7 linked regions of the Homo sapiens genome follow. The protein of the gene in region 6 purifies or fractionates together with the protein of the main gene of each other region. This does not show direct contact. Each region holds a gene or a part of one and is shown on either strand. Other genes may lie near its edges.

The links.
Region 1: the proteins of NOP14 (region 6) and PAXIP1 purify together in Homo sapiens (affinity purification with mass spectrometry; 2 studies listed by BioGRID, with this or other methods). This does not show direct contact.
Region 2: the proteins of NOP14 (region 6) and NAP1L4 fractionate together in Homo sapiens (co-fractionation; one large-scale study listed by BioGRID). This does not show direct contact.
Region 3: the proteins of NOP14 (region 6) and ARID4B fractionate together in Homo sapiens (co-fractionation; one large-scale study listed by BioGRID). This does not show direct contact.
Region 4: the proteins of NOP14 (region 6) and DHX8 purify together in Homo sapiens (co-immunoprecipitation; one large-scale study listed by IntAct). This does not show direct contact.
Region 5: the proteins of NOP14 (region 6) and SRFBP1 purify together in Homo sapiens (co-immunoprecipitation; one large-scale study listed by IntAct). This does not show direct contact.
Region 7: the proteins of NOP14 (region 6) and ZCRB1 purify together in Homo sapiens (co-immunoprecipitation; one large-scale study listed by IntAct). This does not show direct contact.

What each region holds. Positions count from the first base shown.
Region 1 is NC_000007.14:154,943,551-154,947,896, forward strand, and holds the end of PAXIP1 (PAX-interacting protein 1), read right to left. Parts: intron 4,224-4,346; exon of another isoform or gene 4,143-4,223; intron 3,303-4,142; exon of another isoform or gene 3,264-3,302; coding exon 3,129-3,263; exon of another isoform or gene 3,043-3,128; intron 3,038-3,042; coding exon 2,962-3,037; intron 2,944-2,961; exon of another isoform or gene 2,876-2,943; coding exon 2,815-2,875; exon of another isoform or gene 2,810-2,814; intron 1,071-2,809; exon of another isoform or gene 615-1,070; coding exon 599-614; 3' UTR 140-598; downstream 1-139.
Region 2 is NC_000011.10:2,957,398-2,961,743, forward strand, and holds part of NAP1L4 (nucleosome assembly protein 1-like 4), read right to left. Parts: intron 2,513-4,346; coding exon 2,373-2,512; intron 1,148-2,372; coding exon 1,002-1,147; intron 1-1,001. UniProt on the Homo sapiens protein: Acts as a histone chaperone in nucleosome assembly.
Region 3 is NC_000001.11:235,177,671-235,182,016, reverse strand, and holds part of ARID4B (AT-rich interactive domain-containing protein 4B), read left to right. Parts: coding exon 1-432; intron 433-832; coding exon of another isoform or gene 833-924; exon of another isoform or gene 925-946; intron 947-4,103; coding exon 4,104-4,217; intron 4,218-4,346. UniProt on the Homo sapiens protein: Acts as a transcriptional repressor. May function in the assembly and/or enzymatic activity of the Sin3A corepressor complex or in mediating interactions between the complex and other regulatory complexes.
Region 4 is NC_000017.11:43,486,421-43,490,766, forward strand, and holds part of DHX8 (ATP-dependent RNA helicase DHX8), read left to right. Parts: exon of another isoform or gene 1-38; intron 39-3,028; coding exon 3,029-3,114; intron 3,115-3,970; coding exon 3,971-4,043; intron 4,044-4,346.
Region 5 is NC_000005.10:122,024,475-122,027,974, forward strand, and holds part of SRFBP1 (serum response factor-binding protein 1), read left to right. Parts: intron 1-2,467; coding exon 2,468-2,652; 3' UTR 2,653-3,500. UniProt on the Homo sapiens protein: May be involved in regulating transcriptional activation of cardiac genes during the aging process. May play a role in biosynthesis and/or processing of SLC2A4 in adipose cells.
Region 6 is NC_000004.12:2,942,492-2,946,837, forward strand, and holds part of NOP14 (nucleolar protein 14), read right to left. Parts: intron 4,057-4,346; coding exon 3,921-4,056; intron 2,739-3,920; coding exon 2,637-2,738; intron 1,736-2,636; coding exon 1,582-1,735; intron 1-1,581. UniProt on the Homo sapiens protein: Involved in nucleolar processing of pre-18S ribosomal RNA. Has a role in the nuclear export of 40S pre-ribosomal subunit to the cytoplasm.
Region 7 is NC_000012.12:42,315,491-42,319,836, forward strand, and holds part of ZCRB1 (zinc finger CCHC-type and RNA-binding motif-containing protein 1), read right to left. Parts: intron 2,409-4,346; coding exon 2,297-2,408; intron 1,958-2,296; coding exon 1,850-1,957; intron 1-1,849.

The sequences.
Region 1 (4,346 bases), on a different chromosome or scaffold from region 6:
GCTGGCTTCTAGAAATTATTTCTTGAGGTAAAAATTGACTGGAAAATATTTTGTCTTGAAATTACTTAAAATGTGATCCGGTTTGATGCAAATTATAAGTTATGCAAAAAATGTGGAATAATAAAGGATTACTCAATTCTAAGTTCAAAAGTACATTTATTTAAAATGTGGGCAAGATATCAATATAAAAGAAAACAGAGTATAAGAAATAAAAATAATCAAAGTACAAAACATTTCAAATCTTTAACATCCATAATTTAGAGATAGCAAGGTCTTTATTTACACCATTTTATTTCTAGTTGAAGTCCCGTAACAGTTTTGTGAAAACATTTAAAAACCTGGCAAATGAATCATAAAACCTAATGTGGGCTCTTAAAGTCATATAATACAAAACATAATTTATGTTTCCTCAGAATAAAATTGCACATCTTAAAAAGATGCAGTATATTTATTATATCTGTCTTCCTGCTTCACAGTCTGATCCCCCAGGAAAGCAGCTGGAAAACAAGAGCATGTGAAGGAAGCGCAGCAGCTCCTCGCCAGCCAGACAGCCAGCCCCGCACCGCAGGAGTCGACATGCACGGCAGCCTAGACGCCATCAGTTAAACTTATATGTAGGCTTGTTGAGGAAAACGACTTTCAAACACAAGGCAAAAGAAAAACATGAAACCAAGGGTTCCAACATTCATCATCCAGTTTCAGAGACACCCTTGAAGGAATGCTACAGCCTCTTTCTTACCCATTCAAACCAGTCGCTCTGCTGCATACCCACATCACAGGAGGCCCTCAGCCCCGACACACAGGCTCACTCAGCCCGGGGACATCAGCACCTGTGCCAGCTCCGCAAGGTATCCACCATGCGGCCAGAACTGAGGCCCAGCAATAGCTGAAATGTCCTTTAAATTAACATGTACAACACACAACCCCCAAGAGCTGACATCCCCAAAGCCCCACCACAAATAGCTGACTCCTACTTATACCTGCAGGAGCAGGTAGTGACCTCTGCAATTCTAAACCGTCCACTTTGGGCAAAATTCATCAAGCTATGGATATGAAAAAAGGCCCCCAAGGTAATACTCATAAGTCTCCTGTATGACTTTTAAAGCAATTTCTTCTGAAAGTAAATGTAGTGTAGAACAGGCTTTCACAAATACAAACATGAATGTTAGGAAAAAGTCTGGAAAAAATGCAAGAGTACATGTTGTATAAAAACCAAATGCTTATAGCATATCTGTAAAAATTTAACAGGCCTCTTATCATTCCTATCAGTAGCTCCTACAATAATTTTCTAATAGATGGCGGTATGGAATACAGCAAGCTCTGGTATGAATGGTAAGAGCGTTTCTGCACCAAGCCTCATTCCAACTAGACAGGCTATTTATTTATGGCTAAACATGACATTGGATTCTGGGACTGAGGCAAATTTTACTTCTTTTTTTTTTTTTTTTTTTTTAAAGACAGAGTTTCGCTCTTGTTGCCCAGGCTGTAGTGCAATGGCGCGATATTGGCTCACTGCAACCCCTGCCTCCCAGGTTCAAGTGATTCTCCTGCCTCACCAAGTAGCTGTGATTACAGGTACCCGCCACCATGGCCAGCTAATTTTTTCTATTTTTAGTAGAGCCAGGGTTTCACCATGTTGGCCAGGCTGGTCTCGAACTCCTGATCTCAGGTGATCCACCTGTCTTGGCCTCCCGTGCTGGGATTATAGGCATGAGCCACCACGTCCGGCCAAATTTTACTTCTTAAAAGTGCTTTTCTCTCAGTGATATCAAGGTCTTCTGTCTACTATTATAACCATAAGCTCTTTAGCGTTAAGAGGAAAATGTTTGATAAATGTAATTAACTGGATGAATGTCAGTGTATTTAAATGTAAATATACTTAAATGTAATTACCTGGATGAAACAGGCACACACGAAGAAAAAAAAACTCGGCAAGGATGGGTATCATTCTGACCTCTGCGCCTTACTGAAGCAGTCCTATCCCAAACACAAAATTCCCCTGCTTAAGGAAAGGTCCACTGAGGTTGACACTGGTCAGAGGTGGCAGAGGCTCCCACCCTCACAGAGAGGAGGAGCTCCAGCCTCATTGCAGGAGGCCCAGGGAGAAGTCCTGAGAACAGCCCTGAGAGAAGGTGCTCTGCAATGGGAAACGGAAGTGGAAACAGAATTTTCCCATAAGGACCTGTAAGGCATGTTTTGCTTCACTGATAGGCTGTTCCTACATTAAAATAATAATTCAGAGATTTTTAATAAGGAATTCAAATAACAGATGATGAGCTTTATTTTTTCCTGAATGTCTGAAATAGAAAAAAGCCTAGGTGTCAATATTCTAAAGACTGACCTTTGCATTTTCCTGACATGTTGATGAAGTATTCATTCTGCCGCTTCCATTTAGTAGTAATTTATCTCCCATCCCAAAGTTCCTGAGTACAAAGACTATATACGAACTAAATTTCATTTGGAAAACTACAAACTCAAAGGTGAGCTGATAAAAAGAAACATATATTTATTTTTGCAATTATTTTCTATTTTATCTAATTGTCAAATTCTTTAATACCTCCATAAACTAGACAGTATAGATCCTTTCTAATTAACATCACCTATTAAAACTGAACTCTCAGTAAGTTAAGAGAATATTTTTACTAGCAACTCAAATGAATATTCTGAAGAGAAAAGAATTGTTCACTGCATAAATCACAATAGCAAAGAAAGGAAAAATGGCTTGCAAAACAGGAAAGGTACTGCCTTATTAACCTGGGAAATCCATTTCATATCTAACCCGTCTACTTTTTAATTCTCTTTTGGAAAGGATATGATTCATAGTCCAGCGTTTGAGTGAGCACTCCAGTCAGAACGAACTCTGCATTGTGAACATCTGAACAGGGTGGAAACAGACACTTTAGTTAGAGATCCACTGCTGTGCGTGCACACATACTCACACAGGTAAGCGGGGAAACGTACCTATGCCTCTGGCAAAATATTCTCGGCATAAATGAAGGTCATTTTCACAGGATATTAAAATTATTTCCGACAAACTCTAAGGAAAAGAAAATGAGTTTCTCAGTGACCGAACGCTGAATGTGATACAGGGCAATGACGGACTCGCTGGCGGACTCCACTCTACCCACCGAGTTCTGCTTGTGCTCCATGAGCTTCCGGAAAGATGGCTGCTTGGATAACACCTTTCCTCCTGCACACTCTACGATTGCCTTCATAGTGGAAAGACTTGGGCAGATTCCAGGTGTGATGTAAAAATATTTTGCCTAAAATTAAATGAAAATATATGTATTATGTTCTTAAAATGCTTTAATTTTTAGAGTACATAATTCTCATAGATTCTGCCCTGAGATTTTTGACAAAATTTCAAATTTTATGACATTATGAAGGTACTATTCTCCTACTAGCACTCAATCTGAAGTGGAAGAGGAATCCAGCTATGTAAATTTGGAATGTAAGCATTTTCACATGTTAAGTATGCCTGAAGATGATTTAAAGTAACCAGAACTTAAGTCCCTAAAACAAAGTGTTTTGTGAATAAGCAAGAATATTACAAATATTTTTCACAATTTCTATACAATTTTAAATCAGCATTATATTTCACCACACTTATCTGCCCAGCAACAGCCTCTGGCATAGCATGCTGCCTGGCTTATATCCCTTTTCTTTATTTTCTCCATATTATTTGAACTCAGAGCAGGAAATGATATTGATGCTTAAGATTTAATTATCTAACAAGATTGCTCCTGAGGATACCACAAAATACTATTCTGTCTGAAACTGCAAATAATTTCTAATTCCTGTTGACTCCTTAAGAAGGTTAAAGAACCGATTATCTTTATTGATTTACTTAGTTCTTTGGTACAAAAAAAATTCCTAGCTGTTCTAACACTTATCTAACATTTAAAAATCTTTTAGTACTGAATTATATCTATGCACACACTGAATATTTTCCCAAGTATCTTCTCCAGCTGAATATACATTTACTGACAATAGTACGAAGTAAGCGATGTCCTCTAAAGATTTATTAAAAGCAGAAAAATGAACATGCCTCTTAACCAATTACTCAAAAACCTATTCTTTGAATAACTTATTTCTCATAGATGTATTTATTAAATTTGTGTACTTATTTTTAAACATTATAGTAAAGAAAAGTTCTCTAGAGATGTGCTGTGGTTCACAGGAGGAAGACCTCCAGTGGCAATGTCCAAGAAGGAAGCCAAGAGGTAAATGGGATGCAGGGTGAGCCCAGCTCCCCTGGAGGCGCACTTCCCACCAAATCACCTGGTAGTTCCCTTGAGCAGGTCCGTGTGTTATGCTTACTTGGACTGATTTACTTTTCCCTTAAA
Region 2 (4,346 bases), on a different chromosome or scaffold from region 6:
TGAAGGGCAGCTTGATAAATAAGGGTGCTAAGCTCAGAGACAAAATCAAAAAATCAATCACTCAGACTGGAGAAGAGATCCGCCCTGTGGCCCCACATACAAACAAACACTCACTGATTATCTGCAGCAGGGGCTGGCATCTCTTCACTTCAAATTATGTTTTAGTTCATGGAAACTAAAGAGAATATGGATATTTTAACACTGACAAGTTGCTTGACCTTCACATTTTCTCGCGATTAGGAAATTATATGAAAAATCCCAAGAAATTTACTCTTAAAATCAATTGGTCAACCTTTACTAGCTCAAAGGTCTCATCTTTATTTTACCACTTAGGAAAATTTAAAAAATAAATAAATAAACAAAAAGAAGCAGCTTCCAAGCTGTGATTCTGCCGATGTTTTTCAAAAATGAAAGTCCCAACTACTTGTGTTTCTTACAATATATAAATTCCAAAAAATTCTATCAAATTATGCATAAAAAATTACAAGAAAAGGGGGACTAAGCAGATGATCCAAAAGCAGCACAACTAGAACCAGCGTACAGCAGTAACGGGTACCTGCAGAGCAAACCCAGCAGCTCTCCGAGGCTGGGAGTGGTCCCCGGGGGGTGCGAACCAGACACAACAGCGGGGCAGAAATGCCAGCTGGTGGAGAAGGGTGCTCCAGGTGTCCAAGTGAGGAAGCAGCCCAGGTGCAAATACTCGATTCAGTTTTCTTAAAACAGAACTGCAAGTTTTTGCCTGGGCTACAGCCAAGCAGAGTAAAGCTCTTCCCTTTCCTGCAGAAGATGACAATCCTACTCTTACTGTCCTAGCTACCTCTGCCCCCCGCGATAAACTTGCCAGCGCACCAACAGAACAGCCTGGGACACAGCAATGTGCCCCTACTGACCACACTTGCCTGAAAAAAGAGGACTAAAGTCTCTGGGTGTTAGGAATCTATCAGGTGACCAAAATTATTTTATATAAGAACATAATGAATATTAACAACCAACAGACTTGCCTTTCAATGGATTGAAGAAGTTGAAAAAGGACTCATTGGGTACTTGTTTCGTAATTGTTCTAACAGTGCCTCGACCCTTATGCTTCTGCTTTTTCTTGATGGTTTTGACAGTAACATTCTTTCCTTTCTTCCAGTCAATAGTACACCTACCAGGACAAGACAGCTGTCAGGAACACACAATCCATGAGAAAAATCCATTACAAATGCATGCAGGAAGCAAACCACAGCTCTATGCCAAACCTGGAAAACGAAATAAAACCAATCTGCAAACCAAATACAATGGCCCATGAAGTTCATCTGGAGGTTGGCAAAAAGAGAAACAGCCTGGTCCTCTTTCAACTTGGGTGTGACCACTGGAACTTCAGACTTCTGGAACAATGGTATTATTTTCCCAAGACATTTCATCAGGACTCTGAAATGTATATTCTGTGGCAAAGCCCCGTCAAGTCTGCATGATGCACAAGAACTTGTCCGCGGTTTCCCAAGGAAGGAGGAGTTGCTGCTGTTCAAAGCAGCCAACTGAGCACGACAAGCTGAAAAAAGGAAAGAGGTGGCCACCGGGAATACTGATGGCCAGTGCAGACCACTCCAGCCCCAGGGATGCTGGCGAGGGCTGAGCACAGCACGCTCTCTCTAACACACAATCACCACAGACCCAGGCAACACCTGGCAGATCTCAATACTGCCCGCTTAAGAACATGCTTGGTAAGGCCAGGCCTTTTTCTCACATGATGTCCTGGCCCTGGAAAATCATCTTTCTAAATTACTCTAGCAGGATTTTAATAAAGTCCTGAATTAACAATTACTATTTACTTCTGGTAAATAAACGTAATTGTTTCAAGTCAAGACTAAAACCATTTCTCAGTCAACCCAACCTGGAGAAATTAATTCTAAACCAAATTCTCTCTTTAGTGATTTATAAAGACTGAAATCAGTGAGTCAAACAACAGCTATGCTGCCCCCACCTATTTCCAAAGCAATCAGCTGATCAATATAGCCCTGGACTCAGACTCATTCATTCAATAAGTATTTATTTGCTGAGGGTAATCCATGGATTCAATTTTAAGAACTTCAATTCACGATGTCTAGAGAATCCACTACTTTCATTAAAATGAAGAAACAGGGCACTATCCCAAAGGCTTGCATGTGCAACCACGTGACTCATTTCCCAGGTTCAGCCGCCATCTCCAAGTTCTGCACTATGAGCATTCCCAAACTGAAAGACTATTGAAATATACATCTACCAGGCTTTTAGGCTTTTAAGCAGACTCAAGACTGTACTTTATTCCTTACTTCTATCTTACCCATCAAGTTACAAAATTATCTTTTGATTTTGTTTCAGAAAAACAAGGTAGAATGACATTTTCTTACCCGTCACAGTCCACAATCTCAGGACCTTCAAAGGAAAAGGGATCAGCCTTATCTGGTTCTGATTTCATCTTGTAGGTTTTTGTCAGGACTGAGTTGGTAAAGTAGTCGTTGGGTTCAAAGTGGAACTCTAACACAAAAGACTAAAAGTAGAAATTCAGAGTAAGCACCAGTTAAAATAGAAAAATAACGAGGACAGATTGCTTGGAGTACACAACACTTACTAGAAGCTATTTTGGGAAAGCTCAACAGATAGGGCCATGAACAAGAAAAACTTCTCCACCGCAAAAAAGACTAGCGTGAGGTTAAAAAAACCAACGATGGACTGGCGGGAAATATCTGTTCAGTTCATGAGTAAGGGGCATGTTCCCCCTCCAATGCCTCCTCACCAATAGGCGTCAAGCTCTCCTAAGAAATCCTAGCTTCTCTTAGCTGCTCCCAGCCCTTGCTTCCTGGAAGGAGGGAAGGTGACTAGGGGAAAGTAAGGGGACCAGCAGTCCATCCTCCTCCTGTCCTTTTCCGCTCAGCCTAAGCCCCAGCCCCCACCCTGCTGGGGGAAGCCAGGGTCTCTACTCTGTGCTGTGCAGTGAAAGCAGTGACCCACAGCTTTTCTCCCGGGAGGTGGGTGGGAGAAAAGGACAAATCTCTACAAGGACAGAAAGCTCATCCCTCACTTACAAAGCACGCTACAGACCTGGAAGAGACGTGAGCACACCGGGAAAAAGGATGCAAACATGAACGCAGGCATAGAACAACCAACAGCAGCAACAAGGCATTCATGCTCACGAGTAACAAAACACATGAACACCAAAATGAGATGCCTTTCTTTGGGGCAAAATGTACAAAAATATGTAGACCCGGCCAGGATTTTGGGGTACTGAGCACACTCATGTACTGTCGACAGATTTTATGAAGGACAATTTGGCAATATCAAAAAAAATTAAATTAAAAGGCATATTCCCTGACTCAGTAATTCTATTTTGAGGAATTTGTTCTATTTGAGAAAAATACCTGGATGGATGCATCGATATGTGCAAAGACATTGACCTCATCCCTATTTATAGAAGAAAAACATGGAAGATGCGCTTGGTTGAGTAATTTATAGACAGTTTACAAGACCAGTTCTACGCTCAGACAGCCTGGATTCAAATCCCATCTCTGCCTACACTGCTAGGCAACTCGCGGAAGCTACTCAATGTCTCCGTGCTTTAGTTTCCTCATCTCTACACTGGAAATAACTCTCTCCCTCTCTAGGAGCTGCCTTGGTGGTTAATCTGTATCACTTAGAGCCGCGTTTATAGGCAAGGCTGGCTAAATGTCAGCTGTTTCCATTTTCATTGTAATGGTAAAACCATCAACGGGGGGGAAATTAAGAGGACTAAAAAAAATATACAGCAAAAAAAGTTTATACATTCAAACAAACCACTTGCACAAAGGAGAAGTGAAAAAACAACTTTCAAAGAAAGGTGGAGGAGGAGGCGGGGCATGAGGGCTTAGGAAGTCAGGATCAGGGAGACAGTCTAGTCGGTTTCTAGAAGGGATGACAGCAGGATCTGGCTAGGAGCTCTCCACTGGCCTTGGCAAGAGCAAAGGAAGCGGGTAGGGCACTGCAGATGAACCACACAAACGAAAGGCCAGTCACCTGCCTGGCAAAAATCACAAGGAAAGGAAGAGGCAGCTACAGGGAATCAGCATCAAATAAAATGCCTATTTCTCTCCCAACCCTCCACGGCTTAAAAAAAAAAAAAAAACCAACATAAAGAGGGAAGACAAGTAGCCAACCAATGGAGAGACTGCTATGATTCCAGAACTGTTTAAGGCTGTGACCACAGTGTGGACAACCAACCCAGGGCATGGGGTGGCCCCAATAAAACAAATAGTACTATTAGACTTGTGGTCCTTCACCATGTCCTACTCATTTTTTCCCCTCCTTTTTACTTTCTCTTTTAAAGACCAGTTCTCCCTATGTTGCCCAGG
Region 3 (4,346 bases), on a different chromosome or scaffold from region 6:
CACTGCAGACTGTGGCTGAAGAGGAGAGTTGTTCACCCAGTGTAGAACTAGAAAAACCACCTCCAGTCAATGTCGATAGTAAACCCATTGAAGAAAAAACAGTAGAGGTCAATGACAGAAAAGCAGAATTTCCAAGTAGTGGCAGTAATTCAGTGCTAAATACCCCTCCTACTACACCTGAATCGCCTTCATCAGTCACTGTAACAGAAGGCAGCCGGCAGCAGTCTTCTGTAACAGTATCAGAACCACTGGCTCCAAACCAAGAAGAGGTTCGAAGTATCAAGAGTGAAACTGATAGCACAATTGAGGTGGATAGTGTTGCTGGGGAGCTCCAAGACCTCCAGTCTGAAGGGAATAGCTCGCCAGCAGGTTTTGATGCCAGTGTGAGCTCAAGCAGTAGTAATCAGCCAGAACCAGAACATCCTGAAAAAGGTGAGAAGGAAAATGTGTATGTTGACTTATTTTAGGGTTTCCCCTCTTAAAGTTTCAATGATTTCACAGTATCTCTTGTTATAACCTGAGGCGATTAAGTGTCATATTTGTGTGAACATGGTAAAAATGGAAATTTTAAAGGTAATTTGAAAATGAATAGTGGAATGCATTTAAAAGCTTGAGAAGGCTTTAATGTGCTTTGCTTGAGCCATCCATGGCATTTTATTGTGGACCAGAACACATGCTAGAAATTGCACCCAGGCCCAAATCCAAACCTGTTTGAGAATTCATTATATGCAGTGGTTGACTATATGGCATGAGCAGCTTAAATCTATTTCTGTAACATTGTTTTTGCAATTGTAATGTGCAGTTTCTCACGAACATTTTGATTTATTGACAGACCCCTCCACCCTTAACCAAATACTGTATGTAGGGGTTTGGAGCAACCAACTGTCCAGGCACTGCTTTCCTCAGACAACCGTGTCAAACTGATTTTCAAGCCTGACTAACTTGTGTGAGTTTGTAAAGGAATTTGATGCTTTCTTAGATGCATAGCTTCCAAATTGAAGGACCAATGTGTACGTTAATAACCTACAGTAATACTTTTTTGATTTTCCGTGAAATTGTTAAAAGTGGAAATTCAAATCGGTACCTTCCCAAAGTATTAGTGCCTTTCGATGGTGCCATAGCCATACTTCTGTCATCATTTTTCTTATAAACCACTTCATTCAGGTATCTTTAAATCAGTATACTCTAGGCTGACACCTGGCTTTGGAACACACTTTTCCATCGTAAAGACAGAGCACTGGAGTATGTTTTTTATATACCGTAAAAGATTTTAGAATGCTAGCTTTAGGTTTTCAGCAAAGCTTAAAGAGATATGGTCTAGATCAAATTAGTTAATTCTATGTTTTCTCAGGAATCTTGACTTAAAACATTTCTGTTTTAAAATAAATTAAAAAAATACTTGCAATTAAATTGAAATGTTCTTTGCTTTTTTTCACATTTACAAGTATAACTACTATGATTTTATCTGTGCCATACTATCTCATGCAACTGAACTATCCAGGCATGACTAATCTTCAAAATGAAAGAATCCTTTATTTCAGAATATTAGGCTTTCAACAGTAAGATTTTACTGGCCAGGTGTGGTCACTCACACCTGTAATCCCAGCAATTTGGGAGGTCTGGGAGGTCAAGGCGGTGGATCGCTTGAGTCCAGGAGTTCAAGACCAGCCTGGACAACATGGCAAAACCCCATCTCTACCAAAAATACAAACGTCAGCCAGCTGTGGTGGCGCATGCCTGTAGTCCCAGCTACCTTGGGGGCTGATGAGGGAGAATCACTTGATCCCGGAAAGGCTGCAGTGAGCCAAGATCACGCCACTGCACTCCAGCCTGGGTGATAAAACAAGACCCTGTCTCAAAAAAAAAAAAAAAAAAAAAAGAAAAAACAAGAAAAGAAAGAAAAAAACAGGTTTTATTGTTATAGGTTTTCTTGGGGGTTTTTTTTTTGAGATGGAGTCTCGCTCTGTTGCCCAGGCTGGAGTGCAGTGGTGTGATCTGGGCTCACTGCAACCTCCGTCTCCTGGGTTCAAGTGATTCCCCTGCCTCAGCCTGCTGAGTAGCTGGGACTACAGGCGTGTGCCACCATGCCCAGCTAATTTTTTGTATTTTTAGTAGAGATGGCATTTCGCCATGTTAGCCAGGATGGTCTCTATCTCTTGACCTCATGATCTGCCTGCCTTGGCCTCCCAAAGTGCTAGGATTACAGGCATGAGCCACCGTGCCTAGCCTATTGTTGTAGTTTTTAAGAGGTTGTATCCTTATTATGTTCGTAATATCTTACAAAAGATTAAAATTAACAACAAAAAAAAAGAGGATATCTTCTCTGCTAATAGACTAAGTCAACACTGCCCTTTTGAATCTTAATCTTGACTAGGTTAATAATTGTGGAATTTGAAAGCTACTCCTAAATTTAGGGTAATTTATATCTCTTTAGAAATAATTGGTGTTTTTCTTTTTGTTGGGTTTTTTTTTTTTTTTTTTTTTTTTTTTTGAGACATAGAGTTTTGCTCTTGTTGCCCAGGCTGGAGTGCAGTGGTGCAATCTTGGTTCACTGCAACCTCCACCTCTCAGGTTCAAGAGATTCTCCTGCCTCAGCCTGCTGAGTATCTGGGATTAACGCCCGGCTAATTTTTGTATTTTGTTTAGTAGAGATGGGGTTTCGCCATGTTGGCCAGGCTGGTCTACGAACTCCTGACCTCAGGTAATCCACCTACCTTGGCCTCCCAAAGTGCTGGAATTACAGGCATGAGCCACCGCGCCCAGCCAGAAATAGGTTCTTAAGCACCTGTTTCACATGGCCACATTTTAATAAATTTACTTACTATGAATATTGGAGACTCCCCACTATATCACAAGTTAAAATTTAAGTTTTACTATTTAGATGTAGTTTTTTCCTCTTAATTTACTCTACATTGAAGGTTTTTATTTCTTAGTATCTGAACACTTTAGAATTAAACTCTCTTGGAGAGAAACCTGACAATTATGGTTCTGTGCTTCAGTATGGTCAATATCTACGTCTCCTTTATGTTTCACTTAAATTGTGATATTAAAATGACATTAGGTGGGTCACATACTTGGTGTAAAAAATAAAAAAGAAATATTAAAAATTTAAAAAGGTATTAGGAAAAGTTGTAAGTAAGATTATATGACCCATTAAAAAAAAGCTAGGAAGTTGCAGACAGTTAATTACTTGTCCTGTTTTTGATCAAGGAAGTTAGGTTTTATACACAGAAGGTTGATTTGGTGTCTGACATTGGAACTGAATGGAGATAGTACTTTATTAGTCTCTGGAGAAAAAATCTTACTTTATATAGTCTGAGAGATAACATATATGAATTAGACAGAAATATAGCAGATGTTAAGGACCAAATGAGTAGTATAGAAAAATGCTACAGTTCAGAGTAGTGATTGATCAGTGAAGCCTGGAACATCTTAGTGAAGATGTAGGACTTGGGCTAGTCCTTGAAGAAAAGGGAGACATTTATTTGTAATGTTTTGCAATAATTTCCCACCAAGAAGATGAGACGTTTTTTAGAACTACTATGTTGGATTTGTAAATGGTATGCATGTTAACCAAACAGTGCCCTGGGAGCTTAGTTATTCTTGACATAAATTGGTAAAAAAGAACCAAGTATGAATTACTGCTAAAATTTACCTCATTTATATCATTTAAAAATTATATTAATATGATTATAAGACATAATGTCATTAACATTTTAACCTGTGATTAAGTCTTAATATTTTGGTTTTATTGAATCTTAACAAATTTCAGTTTTTATTTTCAGCATATACTTTTAATTACTAGGCTTATAAACTCCCAGTACTATATTAAGGACTATTTTCAGTTTATATCTGATTTTTTTAAAGAAGGATGTGCATACTTTGTTTGCCTTTTTAAAAACCCTGACTTTTATTATGTATAAGAATTGAGCTTCCATTAATGACAGTTTATTTAAAAATTGTAGTAAGTTCTGTGACAACTTATAAATGTCATAAAGAACATGTAGTTTTGGATTGTTCTATGTTTCTAAAATGTGGAATTAATTTATACTTAGGGAATGTTGGATTTTATTTTGTGTTACTTAATTCCTTTCCCTTCATAGCCTGTACAGGTCAGAAAAGAGTGAAAGATGCTCAGGGAGGAGGAAGTTCATCAAAAAAGCAGAAAAGAAGCCATAAAGCAACAGTGGTAAACAACAAAAAGAAGGGAAAAGGCAGTAAGTGTGAAATCTCTAATTTTTAAAATATAAAAATAATAGCTGATAATTTTACCCCCAGTAAGAAAATGGTATTCAGGGTATGGGATAGTACACTATTTTGATTTTGTCTGTACACTCAAAAAAAGT
Region 4 (4,346 bases), on a different chromosome or scaffold from region 6:
AAACCTGCTAGACAAATTCTAAAAGAACTGTAATACTGGATTATCATTTAAATTAGTGTTATTTTTACTGTTTTCACCAATGAATTTTTTTAAACTATAAATTAATTTTTTATAATGGATTCAGTTAATTTAACAATTCCCCTGTATAATTGTGAAAATTAAAAATACTGATTAATGGGACCAGGCGCAGTGGCTCACACATGTAATCCCAGCACTTTGGGAGGCCAAGGCGGGTGGATCACGAGGTCAGGAGTTCGAGACCAGCCTGACCAACATGGTGAAACCCTGTCTTACTAAAAATACAAAAATTAGCAGGGCGTGGTGGTGCACGCCTGTAATCCTAGCTACTCAGGAGGCTGAGGCAGGAGAATCACTTGAACCTGGGATGGGGAGGTTGCAGTGAGAGGATCGTGCCACTGCCCTCCAGCCTTAGTGACAGAGCAAGACTCCGTCTCAAAAAAAAAAAAAAAAAAGATTACTGATGGCTGGCAGTGAGAATGTGCTTCAGACTGCTTTGGGAGGGGCTCTTTTGAGCATGACATGCCTAGCACCATGGGACTTAGTTCTCCCTCCACATTTCTTGAAAGAATGTAGCCTCTGAAGTTAGATTGCCTGGGTTTTATTCCTAGCTCCCCCCAGTTATTATTGGGTAGGTCAGTGTCTCAAACCGTCAGCTTCCTCATTGTAAAACATGACAATAATAGCACCTACTTATGAGGGTTGTTTTGGGGATCATGAAGTAACCCATAAAAAGCACTTAGCATAGTGCCTGGCACGTAGTAATGTTCAAAAAGTATTAACCATTGACATTATCGTTACTAACTTATTATGCATAAGATGTGTTCGTGTAGCCTGATGGCATTTGGCTTTCACTTTATCAGAAAGATAAAGGCACATTCCAGGATGGAAATTGTATGGTAGTACTACTTTATGAGTTAGTCATCTAGATCTTTCATGTTATTTATTCATTTACTTTTCTAGGATTAGCATTCAAATGAAAGCATTACAGTTTTTTTGTGGGTCTCATAGTATGAGGCTTATTATCTCAGTCTACTCCCGAGTAGCTAGGACTACAGATGCATACCACCACCCCCGGCTGATTTTTGTATTTTTTGTAGAGATGGTGTTTTGCCATGTTGCCCAGGCTGGTCTTTAACTCCTGGGCTCGAGCAATCTGCCCACCACAACCTCCCAAAGTGCTGGCATTACAGGCGTGAGCCACTGTCTGAAAGTAGCTTAATAAATAGCTCTAATATTAGAAGTTTCAAGAACTAGGCCGGGCACAGTGGCTCATGCCTGTAATCCCAGCACTTCGGGAGGCTGAGGCAGTAGGATTACCTGAGGTCAGGAGTTCAAGACCAGCCTGGCCAATGTGGCAAAACCCCGTCTCTACTAAAACTACAAAAATTAGCCAGGCGTGGTGGAGGGCACCTGTAATCCCAGCTACTTAGGAGGCTGAGACAAGAGAATTGCTTGAACCCGAGAGGCGGAGGTTGCAATGAGCCAAGATCGTACCACTGTACTCCAGCCTGAGAGACAGAGTGAGACTGTTAAAAAAAAATGAAAAAATAAAAAAAGTCCAGGTGCGGTGGCTCATGACTGTAATCCCAGAACTTTGGGAGGCCGAGGCAGGCAAATCACAAGGTCGTGGGTTCGAGACCAGCCTGGCCAATATGGTGAAATCCTGTCTGTACTAAAAATATAAAAATTAGCCGGTCATGGTGGCATGCGCCTGTAGCCCCAGCTACTTGGGAGGCTGAGGCAGAAGAATCGCTTAAACTCAGGGGGCAGAGGTGGCAGTGAGCCAAGATCCCGCCACTGCACTCCAGCCTGGGCGACAGAGCGAGACTCCGTCTCAAAAAAAAGAAAAAAAAAAGAAAAAAAGAAAGTTTCAAGAACTAGGCAGGTGTGCCGGGCACAGTGGCTTATGCCTGTAATCCCAGCACTTTGGGAAGCTGAGGCGGGTGGATCACAAGGTCAGGAGATCAAGACCATCCTGGCTAACATGGTGAAACCCTGTCTCTGCTAAAAATACAAAAAATTAGCCAGGCGTGGTGGTGGGCGCCTGTAGTCCCAGCTACTCGGGAGGCTGAGGCAGGAGAATGGCGTGAACCCGGGAGGTGGAGGTTGCAGTGAGCCGATATCGCACCGCTGCACTCCAGCCTGGGCGACAGAGCCAGACTCTGTCTTAAAAAAAAAAAAAAGAAGAACTAGGCAGGTTTGTGGAGAAAAATTTGGCAAAAAAGTCTTTCATCAATGTGGAGATTGCACCACCCAGCAGCTGCCTGGCCCTCATATACAGATTGGGTCTGTCCTTCTGTTGTGTGCCTCTGTGTGTCTACATGGGCTCATGCTTTTTATTGTCACCTTTACAGTCTAGTCTAGGTGGCAGCGTGCCCAGGTAGTGGTTTTGTGAGAAGAGGGTACCATGATGTGGGTCAAATAGGTCTTCCTAGTTTAAATGCACTCAAGGGCTACATTGAGCCATTTTGTAGTAATATCTTCCTTTCATTTGTATAAATTCTCTAGAATATGTGTGGATAATTTCAGCAGTCTAGATTTTCTCTCTTGTTTTCTTGTTTTGTTTTTTTTGTTTTTTTTTGAGACGGAGTCTCACTCTGTTGCCCAGGCTGGAGTGCAGTGGCGCAATGCCGGCTTACTGCAACCTCTGCCTCCCGGGTTCAAGTGATTCTCCTGCCTCAGTCTCCCAAGTAGCTGGGATTACAGGTGCCTGCCACCACACCCAGCTAATTTTTGTATTTTTAATAGAGACGGGGTTTCACTGTGTTAGCCAGGCTCATCTTGAACTCCTAACCTCAAGTGATCCGCCTGCCTTGGCCTCCCAGAGTGTTGGGATTACAGGCATGAGCCACCACACCTGGCCAGATTTTCTCTCTTTACCCTTACCAGATGGTGGTCTTTGTTTTTTATTACTGTTGGATAACCTAATTAGTTTTGTTTTCACCATACTTGAAACTGATTTCTTGTTCATGTCTCTTCTTTTCTGAATTCTGTTTCTTATTTGCAGCTGAATTTGTGATCAGTCTTGCTGAGAAAAATACCACCTTTGATACTTTTAAGGCTTCTCTCGTCAAAAATGGTGCAGAATTTACGGTATGTATATGTGGAGAAGATAATCTGTAGATATTAATGTTTTAATTTATGTTTGTTTGTTTGTTTTTTTTTTTGAGACAGAGTTTTGCTCTGTCGCCTGGGCTGGAGTGCAGTGGCGCCACCTCAGCTCACTGCAAGCTCCGCCTCCCGGGTTCACGCCATTCTCTTGCCTCAGTCTCCCAAGTAGCTGGGACTACAGGTGCCTGCCACCATGCCCGGCTAATTTTTTGTATTTTTAGTAGAGATGGGGTTTCACCGTGTTAGCCAGGATGGTCTCGATCTCCTGACCTCGTGATCCACCCGCCTCGGCCTTCCAAAGTGCTGGGATTACATAATTTATGTTTTAATGTCACTATTGATTTTAAATTTTGATAGGGTTTAATATAGGATTTTGATATAGGAAGGAGACAATTTTATACATATCAATTAAATAAGCCATTAAGTGTGTAATGTTTTCATGCCATTAAGTAGTGATGATTTAACCAGATTTTCTGTGATACCTCTAGGAAAACAGGGCAGGATTTTCATCATTAAGTCTTTGTAGGTATTTACATTCTTGTTCTGTGAGTCAGGAAGTTGGAAACAAGTTTTGGGGGTAGTTCTAAACCTTGGGAAATAAAATGGTTGCAGGGAGCCTAATAACTTTTCTCCCCAAAGAGTCCTAAATATCGGCTTTCTCTGAAGCTATTATACTAGGTTCATGCTACACCAGGTTGACACACTATGTTTCATGTATTCCAATTAGCTAAATTCAAGTGCGTAACCACCCTTCCCTACAGGACATTCTTTGCCTTTTAAGTGTATTTAAGCACTGATATGGGAGCTGACAATTTTCGTTCTATGTTTCTTTTCAAAGGATTCTCTTATTAGTAACTTGCTGCGTCTCATACAAACCATGCGGCCTCCAGCGAAGCCTTCCACTAGCAAAGGTAAGCAGAGCTTCCAGCTGAGCTTAGCTTCTAGAATGGTGTAGGTTTTGAACATCCTGTAAATTGCATTTGTTTTCCTCTCAGCAGTTGCTGAGCAAGTAAATGTTCCAGTAAGATTTTTCAAATGGGCTGGGCCTAGCGGCTCACTGCTGGAATCCCAGCACTTTGGGAGGCCAAGGTGGGAGTATCACTTGAGCCCAGGAGTTTTAGACCAGCCTGGGCAACATAGAGAGACCTCATCTCTACAAAAAAATAAAAAAATTAGCCAGGCATGATGGCGTGCCTCCGTAGTTCCAGCTACTT
Region 5 (3,500 bases), on a different chromosome or scaffold from region 6:
GTCTTGTGCCTCTTGCCTCCTCTGGATCCTAGGAGTTCTCTTCATTCATCAGCGATAGAAAAGTAATGGAAGATTGAATGTGAGGTTTTTATGGTCCAGGCCTTTTACTCACATTTTATTGGCCATAACTCAATTAGCCATGTGACCTCACCTAACTGCAGCAGGAATGGAAACTATATTCTGATTGTATGCCTAAAAGGAAGATAATACAGGATTTGGCAGAAACATGTCAGTATGCCCCATTTATACCATATATTCACAAACACAGGATAACTGTAAATATAAGACATACCTACATTTTCACAATGAGACTATCCAAATAAAGGGTTTTTTGTGCTTAGCTTGTATGCTTAAAATATTTACTAGTTTATTTACATATACAACTCTATGTAATATATAAAATAATACATTCATTTAGAAATACTACCTTATTCAAATCTCAGTTTTTATGAAACAGGTTTTTGTTTTGTTTTGTTTTGTTTTTTTTATTTTTATTATTATTACACTTTAAGTTTTAGAGTACATGTGCACAACGTGCAGATTTGTTACATATGTATACATGTGCCATGTTGGTGTGCTGCACCCATTAACTCGTCATTTACCATTAGGTATATCTCCTAATGCTATCCCTCCCCACTCCCCCCACCCCACAACAGTCCCCGGTGTGTGATGTTCCCCTTCCTGTGTCCATGTGTTCTCATTGTTCAATTCCCACCTATGAGTGAGGACATGCGGTGTTTGGTTTTTTGTCCTTGCGATGGTTTGCTGAGAATGATGGTTTCCAGTTTCATCCATGTCCCTACAAAGGACATGAACTCATCAGTTTTTATGGCTGCATAGTATTCCATGGTGTATATGTGCCACATTTTCTTAATCCAGTCTATCATTGTTGGACATTTGGGTTGGTTCCAAGTCTTTGCTATTGTGAATAGTGCCGCAATAAACATACGTGTGCATGTGTCTTTATAGTAGCATGATTTATAATCCTTTGGGTATATACCCAATAATAGGATGGCTGGGTCAAATGGTATTTCTAGTTCTAGATCCCTGAGGAATCGCCACACTGACTTCCACAATGGTTGAACTAGTTTACAGTCCCACCAACAGTGTAAAAGTGTTCCTATTTCTCCACATCCTCTACAGTTTTTTTTAAACTTTTCATCTCTACAGCCACTCTTTGAATATTGTAACAGATTTCTAGAGCACATGTGATTTGTGTAAGATAAGGGTTGTTTTGATTTCTGTCTAGATAATGTTTTGTAAATATTATCCCAAACAGTGCACTGGTTTATATAACATTTTTACATTTGTTTTCTTAAAGAGGTCTTTAAAAGGCTTCTGACAGGCCGAGCACGGTGGCTCATGCCTGTAATCCCAGCACTTTGGGAGGCTGAGGTGGGTGGATCGTCTGAGGTCAGGAGTTCGAGATCAGCCTGACCAATATGTCTCTACTAAAAATACATAAATTAGCCAGGCATAGTGGCACATGCCTGTAATCCCAGCTACTTAGGAGGCTGAGGCAGGAGAATTGCTTGAACCTGGGAGGTGGAGGTTGCAGTGAGCCAAGATCACGCCACTGCTCTCCATCCTGGGCAACAGAGCAAGACTCCGTCTTAAAAAAAAGAAGTCTTTTGACAATGATTCCTAACTTGCAATGGAGAAATTACATAGTCATAGGACTGATTAAGAAGTCTATATTAAGTTTTTTTGTCTCTCTTTTTCTTTCTGATTCCATCTCCTAAGTTCTGTAAGCAACTAAAATGTGCATTGATGCATATCTTTTCATACTAGTGTATCTTCGCCAAATAAGACTTGGTTCAAAATCATGTAAAATGTTAAGATACTATATGGACTAGAATACAAGTTGCCACCTTCATATCTGGAGATTAATGTTACAACTAAAAAAGAACTTTGTCTTATATTCTTGAGTAGACTTAGTACTATTTGCCTTGTAATAACCACTTTTGGTTCAATAACAGACGGGAGTGGAATCAACTTATAGCCTTTAAAAATGAGTAAGCACTATCAGTATTGTCAGACTCAGTGGAGTGTCTTAGCTAAGATGTGAATTTTCTGGCTACATCTGCTTCATGTACACAGATATCATAAGCTAATGATGTTCCTTTGAAAATACATGATGCCCTTCTTTTTTGCCTTCCATGCTAGTACAACAGAGTGATTCCTTTCTTTATGTTGTTATAAATAAGACAGCACAGCATAAATTAAGAGGCACTCAATAAACATCTACTTATAAGTGTTAGAAAGCATGTGTGTCAAAATTGACTACTTGTATATAAATTTTCAACTTCAAACTATTCCCTGTTAGACTTCAGTTTTAAATTGTGAAATATTCCATTTAAGAAAACAAAATTTCTTTTTTTAACATTGGTTTGAAAAAGATGAAATTTACTTCTCCTATATGCTCTTTAAGTATATAGTTATTATTATTTTTGCTTTCTCTTCCTAGATTTTCCACAGAATGAGCCTCAGATCAAGAATCAGTTTAATAAGAAGCTATCAGGAAGACTTGAAAATACAAAACAGCAATTGCAGCTGCCTCTTCATCCTTCATGGGAAGCAAGCAGAAGGCGAAAAGAACAGCAATCTAATATTGCTGTGTTTCAGGGGAAAAAAATTACGTTTGATGATTGATTAGTGCCTCTTTCTGCAAACTTTTCCATCTAAAAAAAAAAATGTTTTTTTTAAGACAGGATCTCATTCTGTTGCCCAGACTAGAGTACAATATTGCAATCACAGCTCACTGCAGCCTCAAACTCCTGGGCTCAAGTGATCCTCCCACCTCTGCCTCCCAAAGGGCTGGGACTGCAGGTGCATGCACTACCATGCCCAGCTTTCTCACCCCAGGCTCTGCAGCTATTACTTAAACTCGTATTTGAATAAGTCTCTTGGGGAGAATTATAGAATGTTTGTTTTTGTATTTTTTTTTAAAGTAAATTCAACTTACGCTTATATAAGCCTTTCACAAATCCAATATGTACTTAAATTGATTTTTAATAATATCCCTCAGACTGTTTCCCTTATGAAGTAATTTGGGGATTTTAGTGATCTCATATTTTCTCTTTAGTGCTTATCATGAAATGTGCTTCACTGGTTCAGCTCTGTTGTTTCCTTAAACATAAATGTCAATATATATTTAAAATAATAATGGAAACATAGGAAATCAGCTATTTAAACCAGATCACCCTTGTTAAAAATCATTCTTGTTAGCAAACTAAAATAGTAACTTTTATTATGGATGTACAGATAAATATTAATTTTATTATAGTTTTAAGTACTTGTGATCATGTACTTTTTGATTCTAAAATAGTTGTCTAGGACAATTTTGGGATTCTTAATTATATTTTAGTTAAGAAAATTGTTTAAATATAGCAATACAACCAATAATTTGTTTTATGTTTCACTGCATATAAATATTTCCATTAAATCAAGAATGTATATTATCTAGTTTTTACTATACTTATTTTAAAATTTTTGAGGAA
Region 6 (4,346 bases):
AGGGTTTCAGCGTGGGCAGGGACACCTCAGGGGAGGGGAAAAGCTTTGGCAGGGGGCGCGGTGAGAGCCAAGTGCCTGATCCTGCCTGAGAGGCCTGCTGGCCACAGACTTCCTGGGGCCTACTAGGCACACATGGGGCTGATGAGGCGCTCAGGCCACATCCGGGAACAGACTGAAGTCCCTGCCCCTGTCGGGGAGACAGGCAGTGCACAGCACCCAGAGGAGCAAATGGACCAGACAGAACACGAGAAAGGAAAGTGGAGGGGCAGGAGGGAGACAGGAGAGTCAGTCGGGGGTGACGGTGGAGGGCGGGAGAGGCCTGAGGGGCAGACGTCAGCAAAGGCCTGTAGGACGCAGGAGTCAATTCACTCGCCACGGAGAAGGGCAATCCAGGCCGAGGGTGTGGCTACACGGGGAGGGGTGGAGAGTGGGTACAGTGGGGCAGAGGTGCCGGGCCAAGCGAGAGGGGAAGGCGTGGGTCAGGCCCCGCCCCACACTTCCCCAAAGCCGAGATGCCCACCCCTTCCTTGACTCCACCTGTGCCCAGCCTGTTCCGTCACAGCCCTTCACACGTGGGACTGCAGCTATCTACAGGTGGCTCTCCCGGAGGCAGGGAGCATGTGGGCGGCCGCGCCCCTCTGGCGCCCAGCACCGAGCCTGACAGACAGGAGCCTTGGGAGGCAGGTGGTGGCAGAATGGGAGCACTGAACCGGAAGAGTGGGCCAGACCCCTCTTGGAAGGGACTCTGCTGGTGGTGTGAATGATGCCACAGCACCTGCTCCTCAGGTCAGTCCCCTGGACATGCAGGCGCTTAGCACTGCACGGTGAGCTGGAAATAGAGGACAGGGGTCTGAGCCTTGAGGTCCAACCTCTGGTCAGGCTGGGAGAGGCGTCCACAGACATGGAAGAGCTCAGGAAGAGGCTGTGCAGCTCCTCACCCCCCAGAGGGAAGCAGCAAGTGCTGAGGAAGCATCCAGGAGCAGGGCTGGCATCAGGGGAAGGGGGAGGAGCACAGGGGCTGGGGTGAGGGCCCAGGAGGGCAGCCAGTGTGCAGACTGCTCCTCATCCCAACACTGCTCTTGCCGCCCTCGCTCCTGAATTCAGAGCGTTAAGAGAAGCGACACAGCAGCGCGGCCTGTGTGAGCTGCACGAGAACTTTCACACTGCCTTGTCGTCACGTGAGAAAAAGTAAAAAGTTAAGATTGATTTTAACAATAGACCTTATCTAACCCCAAATACCAAAATATTATGATTTTAACACATAATACAAAAAATTAAGATATTTTAAGTATTTCTGACACTAAGTCTTCGCCACTTGGGCATATGTCACAGGTAGGGTACGTCTCAGTTCAGACTCTGGCCCCTGGCAACCACGCTGGACAGCACAGGTCACCGGTAGCACTGCTTTTCCCCATGTGGCGCGTGCACACGCTCACACAGAGGGACAGACAGTGCGGCGGGTGGCAGGTTGTGTGTTTCCTCTACTTTCGCATATTCTAAACTTTCTACAATGAGTATGAACTACTTAAAAAAATTCTAAAGTATAACATATTTGTAGGAACCTCCCTCAAATCAACTCACCTTGGCTTGCTTTGTTTGGAGTTGCTATGTAAAGAATCCCAAGAAGAAAATTAATAAGCTCAGGTATAAACCTCTGGGACAAAGCCACATACTCCAGGAACAGGCAGCACACGAACAGGCCCTTCACCACGTCCTGGAGGGACAGGATGGGGCACTGGAAAGGAACATATGGGGGGTTACTGTCCTGGGACGATGTCATGCCATGCTAGGCCGACCACCGGGCTTCCCTGATGAACCACGCACCCCACTGAGCTTCACAAGTACAGAGGGAACCCCCGCACCTTATAGCAGTGTCGAGAGCATCAAATGAGATGAAAACAAGATAAAGAGCTTTAGTGATTTTTTTTTCCCGAGACGGAGTTTCACTCTTACCACCCAGGCTGGAGTGCAATGGCACAATCTCGGCTCACTGCAACCTCCACCTCCCGGGTTCAAGTGATTTTCCTGCCTCAGTCTCCCGAGTAGCTGGGATTACAGGCATGTGGCACCACACCCAGCTAATTTTTGTATTTTTAGTAGAGACGGGGTTTCGCCATGTTGGCCACACTGGTCTTGAACTCCCGACCTCAGGTGATCCGCCCGCCTCAGCCTCCGAAAGTGCTGGGATTACAGGCGTGAGCCACCGCGCCTGGCCAGAGCTATACTGATTATAAAGTTCCTTCCACCCATACAGAGCGTACGATTACTGCACTAAGCATGTACCAATCACATGCCTAATAAAGAAAAAGGAACAGCTTGAACTTTTTAAGCCAAAAAGGGAACAAAAGCCCTTATCATCACACTGGATAACTTCACCACTAACTTGAAAGGTTGTTTTCTGGGGTAGCACCATCTGTAACCTTGAGGTGCCAAACCAGGCCCTCCCACTCCCACCCACATCTGGGGCTGCTCGAGCCGGGGCTCTTTTAGATGGGCCCTCTTTGGCCTAACCGCAGTGCTCGGTCTCTGCAGCCCTTAAACAGCCACACTCATGTTCCACAAGGCCCCGAGGGGCTGTGGCTCCGGCCACCCGTGGTGCAGCAGGCCGACCCCTGCCGCATGTGGAGAGAACGCACCTTGGTGAGCAGCTGACTGAGGCACACGAGGGCAGGGGTCACCACTGGGTGCCAGAAGTCGGAAGTTGGAAATAGCAGCCCAGTGATTTTCAAATAAATGAGCTGGAAAGAAAGTGTTACCACAGGTTAAAGAAGGTAAATGAAGTCCATCCATATGCCCTCCCCGCAAACACTCCGGAGCCAAGAACAGGATCTGGCGAGGAGAGGGTGCATCTCCTTGGCCCAGAGCTCTGGCCTCAGTGTCACAGAACAGGCGTCCAACCACCGTGGGTCAACCAGCTAAACGTGCAGTGAGGACACTGAGGCCCATGAAGACTTCAAAGCAGTCAACAATGGTTATAGACACGGGCTCAGATCATGTTTTGGGGAGTTGATTAAAAATCACTAACCTAAGTCCTACATTTTTAAGCTTCTGCTAACTATTGTGAATCCATTTCAACACAAACACCAGGCAACAGAATAAAGAGCGTATCTCAGCAAGTATTTCCTTAAAGTTACTAAAGCTGAAAATACAGCATGAGGCTGTTATAAAATTGTTAAAAATCTCAGCGTACAAATGTCTCCCAACCTTTGAATAACATAGAAACCGAGACCAATTTAAACCAGCCCACAGGCTTGGGCCCTTAAGGACAATACCGTGGTTCTATTTGCCTTCCAATGTTTTTGTCACTGGACCAAATACAGCACCATTCACGTGGAATCAAACCAGAATCTCCCTGCACGACCCACACGTTAGTCCATGGCTAGTGGAGGAGTGCCCTCCCCTCCCAGGCTCGCTGCCGTGCACTCTCACTCCAGATCACCCTCACTGCCGTGCACTCTCACTCCAGATCACCCTCACTGCCGTGCACTCTCACTCCAGATCACCCTCACTGCCGTGCACTCTCACTCCAGATCACCCTCACTGCCGTGCACTCTCACTCCAGATCACCCTCACTGCCGTGCACTCTCACTCCAGATCACCCTCACTGCCGTGCACTCTCACTCCAGATCACCCTCGCTGCCGTGCACTCACTCCAGATCACCCTCACTGCCGTGCACTCTCCAGATCACCCTCACTGCCGTGCACTCTCCAGATCACCCTCACTGCCGTGCACTCTCACTCCAGATCACCCTCACTGCCGTGCACTCTCACTCCAGATCACCCTCGCTGCCGTGCAGCTCACTCCACATCACCCTGGAAGCACAGGGTACAGCCAAGAGCATCGTACCCGTCGTCCACCTTCTGTGATGCCAAACAGAACTTCTGTGGCAGGGGCAGTGCCTAGACTGAACTCTGCTTACCACATCCAACCCTGGCAATGCCGCCCGGCCTTTGGTCTCAATCATTTCTTCCATCTCATGCATCGCATCTCGGAGAACAAATTTGATAGCGTCACTTGCAGATTCAGGAAACATCTGGCAAAGATGATATAAGTGCCTGTTAAGCAGAAATGTAAAGTCAGGAGAGAATGACTTTAGATAAGAAACACAGAAAAGCCCTGCAAGCCACTTTCCTATGCAGTCACCTGTTGACTGAGCAAGTAAGAACTGGATGAATCCGCTTTTTCTAACAGCATTCTTAAGAGTCTACACTCACTTCTGCCATTTCCTAAAAACTCGGCCATAACATTATGGACTGGAGGTGGTGGGAGAAACAGCTCGATTTGTGGTACAGACGTTGTTGGGGGCACCACTCTGTGTGGCAGCTGCAGCTGACAGCTCCAAGGC
Region 7 (4,346 bases), on a different chromosome or scaffold from region 6:
CTGTTTTGGAATAATATTATAGCAAAAAAAAATTAACATATCCCATACTAAAAAAGGATTTAATGAAATAACTTGAGAAAAACCAGGCTAGGTCAATATAAAAAAGTTTTTTTTGGAGGGAGGGAAATTAAATATAAAAATGTAAAAAATATAACAACTCTATGGATCCATAAACCAAAAGGAACCGATTAACAGATTCATCTAGGATTTCTCAGATAATTTAATATTTACTGTGAATATGAAGATATATACTAATCTGAATATAACTACCTTCCCTCCCTCCCTTTCTTTCTTTTACAAAACTCAAAACTTTGGAAAAGTTTCTAAAGTGTTTACTTAAGAGGTTTTAGAATCATAGGAATTGACAGAATCAGTATGTATCCAAGCAACTGCTTGCTCACTCTTTCTATTCATCCATCCATCAGTCTGTTTATTTAGTTATCTTTTTTGTCGGGGGTATGGGGAGTGACAGTGGGGTAGAGGACCTCAAGCCATTTCCTTGCATCTTCCATGTGATTTTGTAGCCAGGACGGTATCTTTCAGTGATTCTCTCCCCAGTTCCCCATTACTACCTCTGGACTCTGTTTTTTAAGTATTTTATTTTATGTTTATTTTTATTTTTGAGACAGAGTCTCCCTCTGTTGCCCAGGCTGGAGTGCAGTGGAGTAATCTCGGCTCACTGCAACCTCCACCTCCTGGGTTCAAGCGAGTCTCCTGCCTCAGCCTTCCAAGTAGCTGGGATTACAGGCACCTGCCACCATGCCTGGCTAATTTTTTTTTTGTATTTTTAGTAGAAACTCAGTTTCACTATGTTGGTCAGTCTGCTTTTGAACTCCAGACCTCAAGTGATCCGTCCACCTCAGCATCCCAAAATGCTAGGATTACAGGCGTGAGCCACTGTGCCCGGCCTGTTTCTTAAGTATTTTTATGGTCATTTTACAAACTTACACCTGTGAGAACCAGACTAAAATTCTCTTGGTACCAATACAGACCTTATACAAAATTATTCTATGGCTGTCTCTCTCTCTTCATCACCAAAACTTTAAATGGATAATGACAGATCATGAAGAGAACCAAAGAAGAAAATGTGGGGATAGTTCAGTTACAAAACACTAGCAATACTAATAGGAAAAAATAAAAAACTTCAAAACACAATATCCCATAGAGGATAAAGTCACATGATAATGTTGCTATTGAACTGTGACTTAAAAACTGTTAAAGAAACAGGCAATATCCTATTAACAAAAATTTATGAGTTACGAAAATCTTGCAAGACAGTGACATAAGTAATCAGTCTAACACTTTTAAAACTAGTGATTTTCAAAGATTTAGGAACTAGAGAAAATACCACTTTGTATTACCCAACTCAGGTTATCTTTACACATTGCATTTCAATTGAATTTACTTTGATGAGTTTAGAGACCCTAACAACTAGGCCAGGCACCATGGCTAACACCTGTAACTCTAGCACTTTGGGAGGCTGAGGTGGGAGGACTGCTTGAGCCCAGGAGTTTGAGATTGGCCTGGGCAACATAGGAAGACCCTGCCTCTACAAAAAAATTTAAAAATTAACCAGGGTGTGATGGTGCATGCCTGTGGTCCCAGCTACTCAGACACTGTGGTGGGAGGATCAGTTGGGCCCGGGAGGTAGAGGCTGCAGTGAGTTGTGACTGCATCACTGCACTGGGTGACAGAGGAAAACCCTATCTCAAAAAAATAAATATTAAAAAATAAAGCATTTTCATAATCTGGTTTAGCCAGTCAGAAGTTTTGGTGAGCAAAAATAAAAGACTGATGTGAAAAGTATCTTAAACTATGGAAAGTTCCATTAAGTTTTAGGTTTACTTACCCCACATTCATAACACTTAGATTTATCAAAGTAGTTTCGCCTTCGGATGAACTCAGCTGCTCTTCCATTGTCAATAGCAATGCTTGCTTTTATCACTCTACCAAATAACTAAACAAGAGAAAAATGTAAATGTAGAATGTATTTCACTGAAACCTAAAATTAATTATTTAATCAATTTTCTCAAATCTTCAATTCCAGTTTATTTTGGATTTTTTAGCAATTGTCACTTAGGTGTGATAAATTCTATTCTGTAGTATTCTTATTCCTGAGATTCCACCAATGTTTTGAGAACCCAGTAGTTTGACCTCTTTTCTTTCTATAAGTTAGATATCTTAAGAATCTACTGATATCTGCTAGACCTGATGATCCACTATATCCCCACATTTTTGGCCTGGATGAGCATAAAGGCTTTGGGGCTAAAAACCTTGATGGAGATGAATAGCTTACCTGTTTGTTGTTTATTGCCCTGGTACAGTTTTGTGCAGAGTCTTTATCCAAAAATAAAATAAATGCAACCCCTTTACTCTTCCTGGTATCTTTATCTTTCATGATGGTAACCCTTAAAGCATAAACAAAGAGTTAAAAATGAGGCAGCAATAAATAAAACAGATACTAATACTTGAAAAATTCATTTTAAAAAGGGCTAAAAATTTATAAGATAAATTAATACATTTGAAAAATCAGCTATCTCTTCAAAGTCAAGGGATATCAAGAATGGAAATGGGAAAGGGTGATACTGATTTAACAGAAGTGAGCACAGCTATGATTAGGAGTTAATCAGAGATTGAAGGGTGAAGTAAAGAAATTACAGAGACAATGAAATCTTAAAGTGTAACCACAATCCCTCTTCCATGCTAACTCCCTCACCTTGCAAAACAAAACAAAATAAAGGTATACTTTACACAAAAAGTAAAATGATTTATTTATTTTTCTAAGTGTTAGAATCAAAGTATATTCTTAATATTCTTTTAAAGAATCTTCAGAAAAATAAGGAAAAAAACCCTCCAGAGCTGGTTGTGGTGGTGCGCACCTGTAGTTCCAGCTACTTGGGAGGCAGAGGCAGGAGGATGCTTGAGCATGGGAGTTTGAGAACAGCCTGGGCAACATAATGAGACCCCGATCTTTAGGGAAAAAGAATCTCCAGTTCTGTGGTTTTTAGCCATACCACCCACCAGGGTGTACCTGAGTGACAAGGAGAGTTATGAGAGCACAGAGCCTGCTCTTTCTCCTGCCCCATCCACATCCCTAGTCATGGAGGCCCTTGCCCACCGTATGTCATTTAACATAGTTTAAAAACAATGTTCAACAGGGCTCTTTGGAGAAATAGCGGATTCCAAGGCTACAGCAGGGCAGGTACAAGAGGAGCTTGGAACATCTTATGCCAGAAGGTAAGAGAGTGCAAGAGTGCGTGAGCGAGTGAGAGAGAGAGAGACGGAGGGAGGAATGAATGAATGAATGATGGGGCCAAGAATACAGCAGCCAGCTGGAAGGAGCTCCCACTGGCCAAATCAAGGACAATTTGAGCATCAAAATAATTCATTACAGTAATAAATTATAAGCCACAGAGAAGGTAGGAATTTATAATTCTTACTGATAAAAGACCAATAAATAAGTGGAGGAGATGGGAGGGAAGGCTCTTGCTTACAACAGAATGCCAAGGGATGACTGGTGAATGTAGAGGGAATGCTGGAGTTGGAAAAATCACCAATTTGACAGAAATATTGAATAAGGTAGTTGCTTTATGTTTTGGAATTTTTCGTAATGTTTGTGAAAGTTATCAGTCTTTTTTTTTAAAGTAGTATTTCAAAAGAAGTATTGGCTTTCTACATCATCCTCAATTAATGATCTCTCATCTGTTGCCTCTTTTCCAATTCCACTGCTTTTTTCTTGTCCATAGGGGCATTACTGTTTTAACAGTCTATTCTTATTGGTTCCTTTATGGTAATTTTTTCTCTTATAATTTTCTCATATCCTTAAGTAGTCTTCTACTTAAGGAATAAATAAAATCACACCATTCCTTTGTTCAAAAATCTTTGGTTCTGTAAGTTGCCTATTCTTTGTCCCACTGTCAGTATCCTTGATGATTTGGCTCCCATCTCCTTCATCTTTCACTGCTCCTTCCCACGCACACACTATGAAGTCTACCCAAAAGAAACCACTCAATGCTCCAGTAGCATGGCCTGTATTTCCCCAAATTTGTGCCTTTGTTCATACAGCTTCTATCTTCTTCCACCTCTGAATCACTGCTCATTAAAATTTTCCTCATTCTTTCGGGGTTCAGGTCAATGTGTCAGTTTCTAATAGCTTCAACTGGATATAATTTCTCCTCCGTTATGCTAGTCTCTGCTGAATTGTGTTATTCATAAACAATGCCTCATCTCATCTATTTTAATGTAAACTCCTTTAAGGCTGTCTCTGTAATCCATATGTGCCCAGCTCAATATGTTGATTGATAGATATACCTTTATATTCAATGGGAAAGACAGACCAAAAAAAT